Linked DNA regions of Homo sapiens. The protein of the gene in region 3 purifies or fractionates together with the protein of the main gene of each other region. This does not show direct contact. Each region holds a gene or a part of one and is shown on either strand. Other genes may lie near its edges.

The links.
Region 1: the proteins of ASB3 (region 3) and ZSWIM8 purify together in Homo sapiens (affinity purification with mass spectrometry, with the first as the bait; 2 studies listed by BioGRID). This does not show direct contact.
Region 2: the proteins of ASB3 (region 3) and CUL5 purify together in Homo sapiens (affinity purification with mass spectrometry; 7 studies listed by BioGRID). This does not show direct contact.

The regions. Positions count from the first base shown.
Region 1 is NC_000010.11:73,788,461-73,792,208, forward strand, and holds part of ZSWIM8 (zinc finger SWIM domain-containing protein 8), read left to right. Parts: intron 1-209; coding exon 210-363; intron 364-635; coding exon 636-730; intron 731-906; coding exon 907-1,079; intron 1,080-1,256; coding exon 1,257-1,364; intron 1,365-1,495; coding exon 1,496-1,577; intron 1,578-1,711; coding exon 1,712-1,832; intron 1,833-2,514; coding exon 2,515-2,716; intron 2,717-2,863; coding exon 2,864-3,039; intron 3,040-3,398; coding exon 3,399-3,748. UniProt on the Homo sapiens protein: Substrate recognition component of a SCF-like E3 ubiquitin-protein ligase complex that promotes target-directed microRNA degradation (TDMD), a process that mediates degradation of microRNAs (miRNAs).
Region 2 is NC_000011.10:108,011,846-108,015,593, reverse strand, and holds part of CUL5 (cullin-5), read right to left. Parts: intron 1-3,748. UniProt on the Homo sapiens protein: Core component of multiple cullin-5-RING E3 ubiquitin-protein ligase complexes (ECS complexes, also named CRL5 complexes), which mediate the ubiquitination and subsequent proteasomal degradation of target proteins.
Region 3 is NC_000002.12:53,785,115-53,788,862, forward strand, and holds the start of ASB3 (ankyrin repeat and SOCS box protein 3), read right to left. Parts: upstream 1,840-3,748; 5' UTR 1,707-1,839; exon of another isoform or gene 1,171-1,706; intron 1-1,170. Other genes in the region: ERLEC1 (endoplasmic reticulum lectin 1 isoform 1 precursor), read left to right, coding at 2,097-2,258. UniProt on the Homo sapiens protein: Probable substrate-recognition component of a SCF-like ECS (Elongin-Cullin-SOCS-box protein) E3 ubiquitin-protein ligase complex which mediates the ubiquitination and subsequent proteasomal degradation of target proteins. Recognizes TNFRSF1B.

The DNA.
Region 1 (3,748 bases), on a different chromosome or scaffold from region 3:
CTGGGGATTATCCAGCTCCCCTTTCCCATATGGAGCCTTAAGGGTTAGTGTATCCTGATAGGGGGATCCCTAGGACTTTCATCCAGGTCTCTTCTTTCTTTCATAGTGAAGATGAGGCCCAGGATGTTGTACTGGCATGAGTGCCAAGAGACCATGGCCCTTTTCATTTCCTATTCTCTTTCCCCTGATCCCAACCATTGTTTGCAAAGATGGACTGGTGATCCCATTGGTGGAGCTGTCAGCAAAGCAGGTGGCATTTCATATCCCATTTGAAGTGGTGGAGAAAGTTTACCCACCAGTGCCTGAGCAGCTACAGCTCCGAATTGCTTTTTGGAGCTTCCCTGAGAATGAAGAGGACATTCGGTGAGGCCAAAGGACTGATGGTGGGGAGCGGGGTCCTGATACTCCACACTGTCTGCTGGGTTTCCCATAGAACAAAGGAGACATTGTATTTGGGGCAGTGGTAAGAGGAAGACAAGGGAGGGATTGCCTGGGATTCCACTCCCTCCCCCCCACCCCCCGCCCTGGGGAAGGAATGAGGCTAGGGAGAGAGTGCCTAGGGCATTGTGGTCTCTGACAGGGTCTGCCAAAGGTTATTTGCTGAGTTGTGGCTGTGTCCTCTTCTTCACCCCCAGGCTGTATTCGTGCCTGGCCAATGGCAGTGCGGATGAGTTTCAGCGAGGGGATCAGCTCTTCCGCATGCGGGCTGTGAAGGACCCATTGCAGATAGGTGAGTGGGCCATCATGCCATGTGGCACATCCTGCTCCTCCCATCCCCTGGCTTATGAAGTAAGAACACACCGCAAGAAGCTGGAGCATGTTGTCTGAATAACTGCAGGGCCAGGGTCAAGGGCAGAGACCCAGGTCCTGACAGCACTCCCTGACCATGCCCCCATTTCTCCCCAGGGTTCCACCTGAGTGCTACAGTGGTGCCACCTCAGATGGTCCCTCCTAAAGGGGCCTACAACGTGGCTGTGATGTTTGACCGCTGCCGGGTCACTTCCTGCAGCTGTACCTGTGGGGCTGGGGCCAAATGGTGCACCCACGTCGTGGCACTCTGTCTCTTCCGCATCCACAACGTGAGGCCCTCCCAATTTATCCCGGCCCTATCCTACACTCCATCCCCCCCTTCTCTGCTGCATGCCTGGCTACAATGTGAGCCCCCTCGCCTCGCCTACTCTGCCTCTCTGTCCCCCAGCTCCAGCTCCAGCAAACCTGTTCTCAGATTGTTCCATTTTTCTCTGTGTCCCCTTCAGGCTTCTGCAGTCTGCCTGCGAGCCCCAGTCTCAGAGTCCCTGTCCCGGCTACAGAGGGACCAGCTGCAAAAGTTTGCTCAGTACCTCATCAGTGAGCTCCCTCAGCAGGTGGGTGAGGTCGGCACCCCCTCCTGCAATTAGCTCCGGGCCAGGCCGCATAACAGCCTTCCTGTTAGGCCCAGGCCTCCATGGGTTCACCTAGGCCGTGTTCTGCCTGCCTCCGTCTCTTTCTCCCTCAGATCCTCCCCACAGCTCAGCGTCTCCTGGACGAACTCCTGTCTTCCCAGTCAACAGCCATCAATACAGTGTGTGGAGCTCCGGGTGAGTGTGGTGAGAAAGATTGGCAGTAGGAAGAAAGCCAGCTTGTAGTACAGAGCGCCATTTACTCAAGGCTTGCTGTTGTCAGGCAAATCCAGGCCCCTATCTCTAGATGACTGACTGCCTGTCATCCTCAGACCCCACAGCAGGGCCCTCAGCATCGGACCAGAGTACTTGGTATCTGGATGAATCGACACTCACTGACAACATCAAAAAGACACTGCACAAGTTCTGTGGCCCCTCCCCTGTGGTCTTCAGGTAAATCGGATCTCTGCATACCTGTGTCTGTGGTGGAGGGGGAGCGTCCCTCAGGCTGATGACAGATCCTTTCTTCTATTCATGCCTGTGACCCCTACCTTTTATTCCCTGAACTGGCACAGTGCCTGGCACACAGTTGTCACTAACGAATTGATGGAAGATGATGACCTTGTACAGTCACAGAGTGGTCTGCTCTTACCTAGCAAGAGTTCCTTTTCTTCTTTTGATAGATCAGGAAATGGAAACAGAGAAAGATTTTTTAAAGAGTTTTTGTGGCTGGGGGCGGTGGCTCATACCTATAATCCCAGCATTTTGGGAGGCTGACGTGGGCAGATCACCTGAGATCAGGAGTTCGAGACCAGCCTGGCCAACATGGCGAATCTCCATCTCTACTAAAAAAACAAAAATTAGCCAGGCGTGGTGGCGGGCGCCTGTAATCTCAGCTACTTGGGAGGCTGAGGCAGGAGAATTGCTTGAACCCGGGAGGTGGAGGTTGCAGTGAGGTGAGATCGCGCCATTGCACTCAAGCCTGGGCGACAGAGCAAGACTTGGTCTCAAAAAAAAAAATTTTGTTACAGATGTCTTTTTCCCTCTATCTTCTGTATTTTGGGGCCGGAAGCCCTTTTAGGTTTCATTCAGCCCCGTCTTACTGTCATGGTTTTCTGTTCCTCTGCTTTTACAGTGATGTGAACTCCATGTATCTGTCTTCCACGGAGCCGCCAGCCGCTGCTGAATGGGCATGTCTGCTGCGCCCTCTGAGGGGCCGTGAGCCAGAGGGCGTCTGGAACCTGCTAAGCATTGTGCGGGAGATGTTCAAGCGGAGGGACAGCAATGCTGCCCCCTTGTTGGAAATCCTCACTGACCAGTGCCTCACCTATGAACAGGTAATCACTCAGCGTTGGGGAGCCCCGTGGTAGCTCATTCTTTCCCTCCCCCTGCCTCATCCTCCTCTTGCTGAAATGGACTCTGGGAGGGCTACTCTGCCTTTCTCTGAGCTCTCAGGTGCAGCTCACAGCCTTCTTTGTCTCCAGATAACAGGTTGGTGGTATAGCGTACGTACCTCAGCCTCACACAGCAGTGCCAGTGGGCACACGGGCCGTAGCAACGGGCAGTCAGAGGTGGCAGCCCATGCCTGTGCCAGCATGTGTGACGAGATGGTCACACTGTGGAGGCTGGCCGTGCTGGACCCTGCACTCAGCCCCCAGCGGTGAGTCTCCCCTGAGGCTCACCACAGAACTGAGCCTGGGCCAGCTCAGGACAGACTGAGCCTTCATCTCCTTGTTTGCAGAGACATACCATGATTTTAGTCCTCGGGAAACGGGAGGTGCTGAGCACTGGTGTTAGCAGTGATTTACGAGTCCTTTTTCTGAGAGGCTTTCATCCTTCCTTCCCCTAAATAACACCCACTTTTCAAAATTCTCCAGTGTTTCAGTGATGCTTATGGGGCTGGGTCAAGAAGTACTTTCCTGTATCCTTTCCCCATGCCTCTCTTTGGGGTGTACACCTACTCCATGCCCATCCTTTCCCAGTAGCCCCTCAGCAGCCTCCTGCCCCTTGTTCCCACAGGCGCCGGGAACTGTGTACGCAGCTGCGGCAGTGGCAACTGAAGGTGATTGAGAACGTCAAGCGGGGCCAACACAAGAAGACGCTGGAGCGGCTCTTCCCCGGCTTCCGGCCAGCGGTGGAGGCCTGCTACTTCAACTGGGAAGAGGCCTACCCACTTCCTGGTGTCACCTACAGCGGCACTGACAGGAAGCTGGCACTGTGCTGGGCCCGGGCCCTGCCCTCTCGGCCAGGTGCCTCCCGCTCTGGGGGCCTGGAGGAATCCCGGGACCGGCCCCGACCCCTTCCTACTGAGCCAGCTGTGCGGCCCAAGGAGCCTGGGACCAAGCGAAAGGGCTTGGGTGAGGGGGTCC
Region 2 (3,748 bases), on a different chromosome or scaffold from region 3:
AATGCAACCATCTCTCTAGGACAGTACACTGAAGGAGGGGAAGGCCGCTCTAAGGCCCATGTCCCTCTTAGATATACGTTTCAAGAGGGCAATTTCTATCAACCCAATGAAAAATTGACAAGTTCTTAATAAGGTTCTCATTTATGTTTAACTAGACATATTAAAAAGAATTCTCTGGTTATGCACCTTAACCACATTCACCGATGATATTCAAATCTTCGTATCACATCCATATTCCTTGCCAAGCATGATCCTGACTCTGTGCTTTCACACTGGCTGTTCCCTCTACAAGGAACTCTTCTAAATATGTACATGACTTGCTCCCTTGCTTCATTCTGGTTTTACCTCAACTATTATCTCCTCAGAGGCATTCCCTCACTATCTTATCAAAAATAAGCCAGCTGTGATGGCTCATGCCTGTAATCCCAGCACTTTGGGAGGCTGAGGTGGGAGGATCACTTAAGGTCAGGAGTTCAACACTAGCCTGGCCAACATGGTGAAACCCCATCTCTACTAAAAATGCAAAAATCAGCCGAGCATGGTGGTGGTCACCGGTAATCCCAACTACTCGGGAGGCTGAGGAAGGAGAATTGCTTGAACCCAGGAGGTGGAGGTTGCAGTGAGCCAAGATCGTGCCACTGCACTCCAGCCTGGGCAAGAGAGTGAGACCCCGTCTCAAAAATAAAAATAAAAATAATAATAATAATAAGAGCACCGAGCACTCTCTCTTTTACCCTGGTTGTTTTTATTCATAGTACCTATCACAACTTGACTTACAGTATGTATTTCACTGTTTATGTTTATTGTCTCTCTTCCCAACAAAAATGTAAATTATACAAGGGCAGGAGCTGTCTGCCTAGTTCATCATTATCTAGTTAGAATTAGGAAATACTAAATTCTCGTTCAATGAATAAATGTATTTCCCATAGACTTAATTACTCCTGCTATGGTTACGGTTTCAATGAACAAGATGTCACTGGCACAAATGCCCCTCATCCATGGCCAATCTCACAAGCAGATTATAAATATACAGAAAATATAATAACTTTTATTTATGTGTAAAAGCCAAAAATAGATTGAGGGCTTGAGAGTATCTCTGCCCACATATTTTTCAAATATTCCTCAGTAACTATAGAACTTTATTTCAAACCCCTTGCCTAGCACTGAAGGCCCTTTGTAATCTGACCCGACTTCCCTTTCACTCCTATCCCTCTTGTTGTTTCCCTGTATTCTGGGTTTCTATGCTGCAACAATCCCAAGGAACACTATTCATATAGAATATCTAACACAGCATGCAGCCCTGCTTACACTGCAGCCACACTGATCTAGCCTAGATTCCTACCAAATTTTCTCCTAATTACCAATACAAAAAGCTTACCCATTATTCAAAATCCAGCTCCAACACTTTATTCAAAATCCAGCTCCAACACTTTCTCCATAAAATTTTCACTGATCATCCCACCAGAAATTATTTCCTCAATCTGTGAGGGAGCATAGAGCAGTTGGTAACACATCTGAAACTTTTGCCTTATCATAAATCATTAGTACCTTTTACTCTCCTTTAGCATATGGTAAATTCCCAAAGAGCATGGACATTGTTCTACATATCTTTGCATTCTCCATGGTACCTTGCATATGGATGTCAATAAAGTTATTTTAATAATGAATAACTTTTACAGGCACTTTTTATTGTTGTTGTTTTATAGAGACAGGGTCTTGCTACATTGCCCAGGTCGGCCTCAGGTAATCCTCTCACCTCATCCTCCCAAAGTGCTGGGATTACAGGCATGAGCCACCATGCCCGGCCTCTATAGACACTCTGAATCACTGCTTTACATTTCCATTTTCTTTCCTCTTAAAGGATAAAAAAAAGTCCACTGAGAAAAGTAGTATGAATCATATTTCAGTTTAAAGTTTGATTTATCTTGTGGTTCGGTTATATACTACTGCCTTCTTGTGCCTCCATCTCACTAGATCCAATCAGAAGGAGAGAGAATGAAAGTTAAGAGTTAGTTATTAGGGAGATGACGACCTCTGGCATGCTAGTGAGCCAACAAGTAACCAGCTAAGTAGGAGTGTGTACGCACACATGTATGAGAGAGAGAGACAAGAGACAGAGAGAGAGAATACTAGTTATCAGGAGAAGACCCAGCTGGAAAGATCTCAAATAATTTGAATCATCAAAGGTATCTGAACAGGAAAGTGATATGGTGAGAACTGCATTTTGATCTAGAGCTCAGATCAGAGCTAAGAGATAAAAATAGTGAAATCATGGGAGTTAAGACTGTCCCAGAAAAAAATATACAAAGATAGAAAAGGGCTGAAGATAAAATCCTGAGAAATAATTCTATTGGGGACAGGGGAGGGAAGTCAGTGAAAAACAAACGTGATTTGAGAGAGAGAAGACCAAGGAGGGAATGTCATAAAAACCAAAAGAGAAGCAGAGGAAATGAGCAATAATACCAGAAAAGAGGATAAATATTATCAGAGAAGAATCTCATTTGATAATCAGGAGGTTGCTAATACTTTTATGACTGACAGGTTCTATACAATTGGGTGGGAGAGAAGAGTAAGCCATATCATTAAGTTAAAGGGCAAAGAATTATAAAGGCAGCAAATGGGGGCTGCTTTTCCAAGAACTGTGACAGTGAGAAACAGAAGTTTGAGGCAGAGGCAGAGTACAAGTTTGTATGAGGAGGCAGAGTGCAGTGGCTCACGCCTGTAATCCCAACACTTTGGGTGGCCGAGGTAGGCGGATCGCTTGAGGTCAGGAGTTTGAGACCATCCTGGCCAATATGGTAAAATCCCGTCTCTACTAAAAATACAAAAATAAGCTGGGTGTGGTGGCGTGTGCCTGTAATCCCAGCTACTCAGGAGGTTGAGGCAGGAGAATTGCTTGAACCTGGGAGGCGGAGGTTGCAGTGAGTGGAGATCCACACCACTGCACTCCAGCCTGGGCAACAAGAGCGAAACTCCATCTCCAAAAAAAAGAAAAGTTTATATGACGCGACATATGAACTTTCTTATAGGCATAGGAGAAAAAAGGGAAACTGAAAAAAAAAAAAAAAAAGTAAGAGGGGACATACCACCAAGTCCTGGGGGGAAGATGAGGACTGAAAAAGAACAAGCAGAATGAGACAATTTGGGAGGTAGCATGGAACAGAGAAGAACATAGGAGAAACAAGAAAAATGTTTGGTATCGACCAAGGAAGTTAAGGGCACTTCAAATAGCTGGGTAAAGTAATGTACTAAGAATTAAGAGGGGTGAGGCTCAGCAAGAAAAGGTTTAAACAATTGCTGTTTGGGGTGGAACAATAAACTGGAAATGAAAAAAATGAGCACTAAGGGCCCAGATGATAATTGCAAAAGAAAAGGAACAATCACAATTACATGTTCAAAGTAATCTAAAACAGAAGATAAAATTATAATATCAGATCCCTACAAATGTTCTACAGACTCACTCTGTAAGGAAAAACAACAAAGATAAAGTAGTTACATGGAAAGGTTTTCAGAGATACAAAACCCCTAAGCAGTTAACTGTATATGTCAAAATGTGCTACACAAATCTTTACATAGCTGAAAGACTTCTAAGATCCAGCAATAGTCCACTTGCTTTAAACAGACAATAAAATTATTAGAGTCAAATTCCAATATTAAAAAAGAAAAGCAGCTAGACATGGTGGCTCACGCCTATAATCCCAGCACTTTGAGAGGTCGAGGAGGGTGGATCATGAGGTCAAGAGATGGA
Region 3 (3,748 bases):
TTTTCATCATTCAAGTCACAATTCAAATGTCACTTCCTCACAGAAGTCTCCTCTGACTTACGTACTAAAAGCAACACATCCTACAGGTATTGTCTTTCACATAACCTTAGTTTCTTTGCAGCACTTACCAATACTAGAAATTATTTTACTTATTTAAGTTCCCCTCTTACTTGAACATCAGCTCTATTGAACACAGATTCAATCACTATAGCCCTAAATGCTAAAACAGGACCTCACAGACAGTTTTCATTTTTATTCCGTCAAATACATCTCTTTTCCTTCATGACTTAAGACTAGTGCTTAGCACAGAATAAATGCTAAAAAAAAAAAAAATTGACTATTACTACTATAATAGTTTGCAATTATTTGTTTGTACAATCTCCCTGCCTAGACTGTGTGACCAAAGACAGAAACCCATTTATTTGGCATTTTACCAAGCCCAGGGGGGCCAGGCACAGTGGCTCAGGCCTGTAATCCCAGCACTTTGGAAGGCCGAGGAGGGCGGATCACCCGAGGTCAGGAGTTCGAGACCAGCCTGGCCAACGTGGTGAAACCCTGCCTCTACTAAAAATACAAAAATTAGGGTGTAGCGGCGCGCGCCTGTAATCCCAACTACTCGGAAGGCTGAGAAAAAGGAGAATCCCTTGAACTCCAGAGGCGGAGGTTGCAGTGAGCCAAGATTATGCCTCTGCACTCCAGCCTGGGTGACAGAGCGAGACTTTGTCTCAAAACAAACAACAACAACAAAAATCCCAGGAGTCTGGATCACATTAAGCATTAATAAGAAGTGCTGAATATAATTAGCGAATAACAATTCTGAAGAAAGTTATCTTCTTTGATACTATGGATTCCTGATGTTAAAAAAAAATTTTTAAGATAGAATATGGGACTGTCCTTCCTGCTTTTTGATTTGGTTCAAATCTGAGGAAGTGGGGGCGACCAGTCTTTAACAGATCTAGCAAGACTGTCGAGCTTTAGGGAATGGTAATTTCTCTAAAGCCAACACTCTATGTCCATTATATTGGAGATCAAAACAGACAATGGCATTTTTTCTAAAGAGGGGGAGGGAAAAACAAAACTTTTTGTCTAATTTGGGGATGCAGTCAGACGTGACTTAGTTCATAAACACACACATTCATCTGGCGCTAAACCTCACATAAGGAACCTTACCAGCTTCCTTGATAAAACAACACCCCAACACTTCAATCTAGAGATGGAGGGTAAAAATGTAGGGTTGTGATGTCTAGCTGCCCATTCCACGAGAGTCGCCCACCACGCCAAATTCGGAGGCTTGCGGTATTCACCTACGGGGAGATGGCGGGCTACCTCACCCCAGGTTTCCCCTAACACAGAGTTGCAGTCGCTGAACAAACTGCCCTGCGTTAGTCAGAAGCTGTTAAGTAACGAGATGGCCACGGTCCACAGCAGAAGAGATGGAGATAAGCCTCAAGCGGGAAAAATGAAGTGTACAAATGCCAAATGCGGAGAAAAAGAAGAAAAGCTGCAAGAAGGCAGGTCAGTCAGGAACACCGCCATTTCTCACATCTCATCGCTACTTCGAATTTTCTCATCTAAGGACCCGCACCCGCACGGTTCACACTGTCTTCTTCCCGCTATCACTCCGTGTGGGTCAAACCTCTGCCTGCCCACTGGAGAGCAGCGGGAATGGCTTCAGGAAGCGGCTGCCGCCTCCGAGACTCACCGACCTGCCGTGCTGCCACTTCTACACCGAAATGGCTGGTCCGAGGCCGCGTCTCCAGAGCTGCGTCCCAGAAGCCCCCGCTTTCGATCCCCACCGCGATGCTGCAGCCGTCCGAAAACGAGAGACGCGCAGGCGACGTCCCGGCCCCCGTAGGCGGACGGCTCCGCGACCCCCGGATGTTGATATGTCGTCTGCCCCGGAAACGGTGACAGGAGGCTCAAGGGGGCGGAGGCGGCGTTGCCGGGCTCTCCGGAAGGAGACGTGGCGGCGGTTGGGCCGGTGATACCCGGGCGCTTTATAGTCCCGCCGCCTCCTCCTCCACCTCCTCCTCCTCCTCCTCTCCTCCTGGAGCAGAGGAGGTTGTGGCGGTGGCTGGAGAAAGCGGCGGCGGAGGATGGAGGAAGGAGGCGGCGGCGTACGGAGTCTGGTCCCGGGCGGGCCGGTGTTACTGGTCCTCTGCGGCCTCCTGGAGGCGTCCGGCGGCGGCCGAGCCCTTCCTCAACTCAGCGATGACATCCCTTTCCGAGTCAACTGGCCCGGCACCGAGTTCTCTCTGGTCAGTGCCCTCACTAACCCCGCAGCCACCCCTCCTCCTGACACTAAGGGTTCGGCCTCTTCCCTCGGTTTTCTTTGCTTTTTCTCCCCAAGACCTTCTCTGCAGACTCTTACCTTCCCCAAGCCAAAGCTGCTTTTATGCAGCGTTCATTCATTCGTTCGTTCTCACGTTATGTGGATGCGTCCCCCTTGCTGAGCATTAGGGATCCAGCAATCACCTGCTCTCCACCTTTTCAATTCTGTCGCACTAGACCTTGCTTCCCAACATTCCCACCCTGCAGAAGCAGCTTTCGTAGAATAACGTCAGGTGCACTTACTCATCTTCCTTTCGGAAAATTAACTGTGGCTCTTACTTCACCAGCAGACTTCTTTCCTTCAGTATTACATGTCACCCTGCCCACACCACAGTACTTCAGACTCGAGTTCCCTCTCTCGTATTCGTTCTCCCTCAGTTGTATACACACACGGACATACGCAAACGCACAGCTCCAAGGGAACTTTTTCCTTTCCTAGTTGTTTCTGAGAGGGCTATTTGGCCTGTGAGATGTTAACGACCCTTTATGCAGAATATCCTTTACAGTTTTCATGTATTACGACTGTTATTTGAGTCCCCAGAACATGAGCTTCTATGTTGAGTTTTCCTGTAGTGAAGAACATTTGTAACCTCGCGGAAATGAAAATTCCCTCTTGGGGGAGTGGACCGCTGAAAAGTCTTCCTGTCCACGTGTACCTACTGCAGGCTAATAAATATTGTACTCTTATGACACTTACCATGTAGTAATTAACTCATTTACTTCAAATTGAAGTCCCGGAAAAAGCAAAATTTTTTTAAACTTTTTATTCCAATTACCTTCAAGCATTCAACTTGCAATACTTTATTATATTCTTTCATTACCATTTCATTGAAACAGTAAGTGACACTATGATGTCAAAACAAGATGTGTCAAGTTAATGGATGTTATTACCACATAGCTTTCTATTTGCAAGTGTTAGGGGTTTTTTGGTTTGGTTTGGTTTGGTTTGGGTTTTTCTGTTTTTGTTTGTTTTTTGAGACAGGGTCTCAGTCTGTTGCCCATTCTGAAGTGCAGTGGTACGGTCACCACTGGCTGCAGCCTCGACCTCCTGGGCTCAAGAGATCTCCTCAGCTTCCCAGTAGCTGGGACTATAGGGAAATCCCACCACTCCTGGCTAATTTTTTTTTTTTTTTCTAGAGGCAGGGTCTCACTATGTTGCCTAGGCTGGTCTCGAACTCCTGGGCTCAAGCAATCCTCGTGCCTGAGCCTCCCAGAATACTGGGATTACATGTGTGAACCAAATGTTCTGAATTTATCTAGGTAAATATTTTTCTGGGACGTCAAATTTCTCTTTGTATTAATGCCACAAAATATTGATACATTGAAATACCTATGTAAAATTTTGTTATGAATCAGATATAACTTTAGCAGGCTTGGAAGAGAATACTTTAATACCTGTTGTTGTATCCAAAGAGCA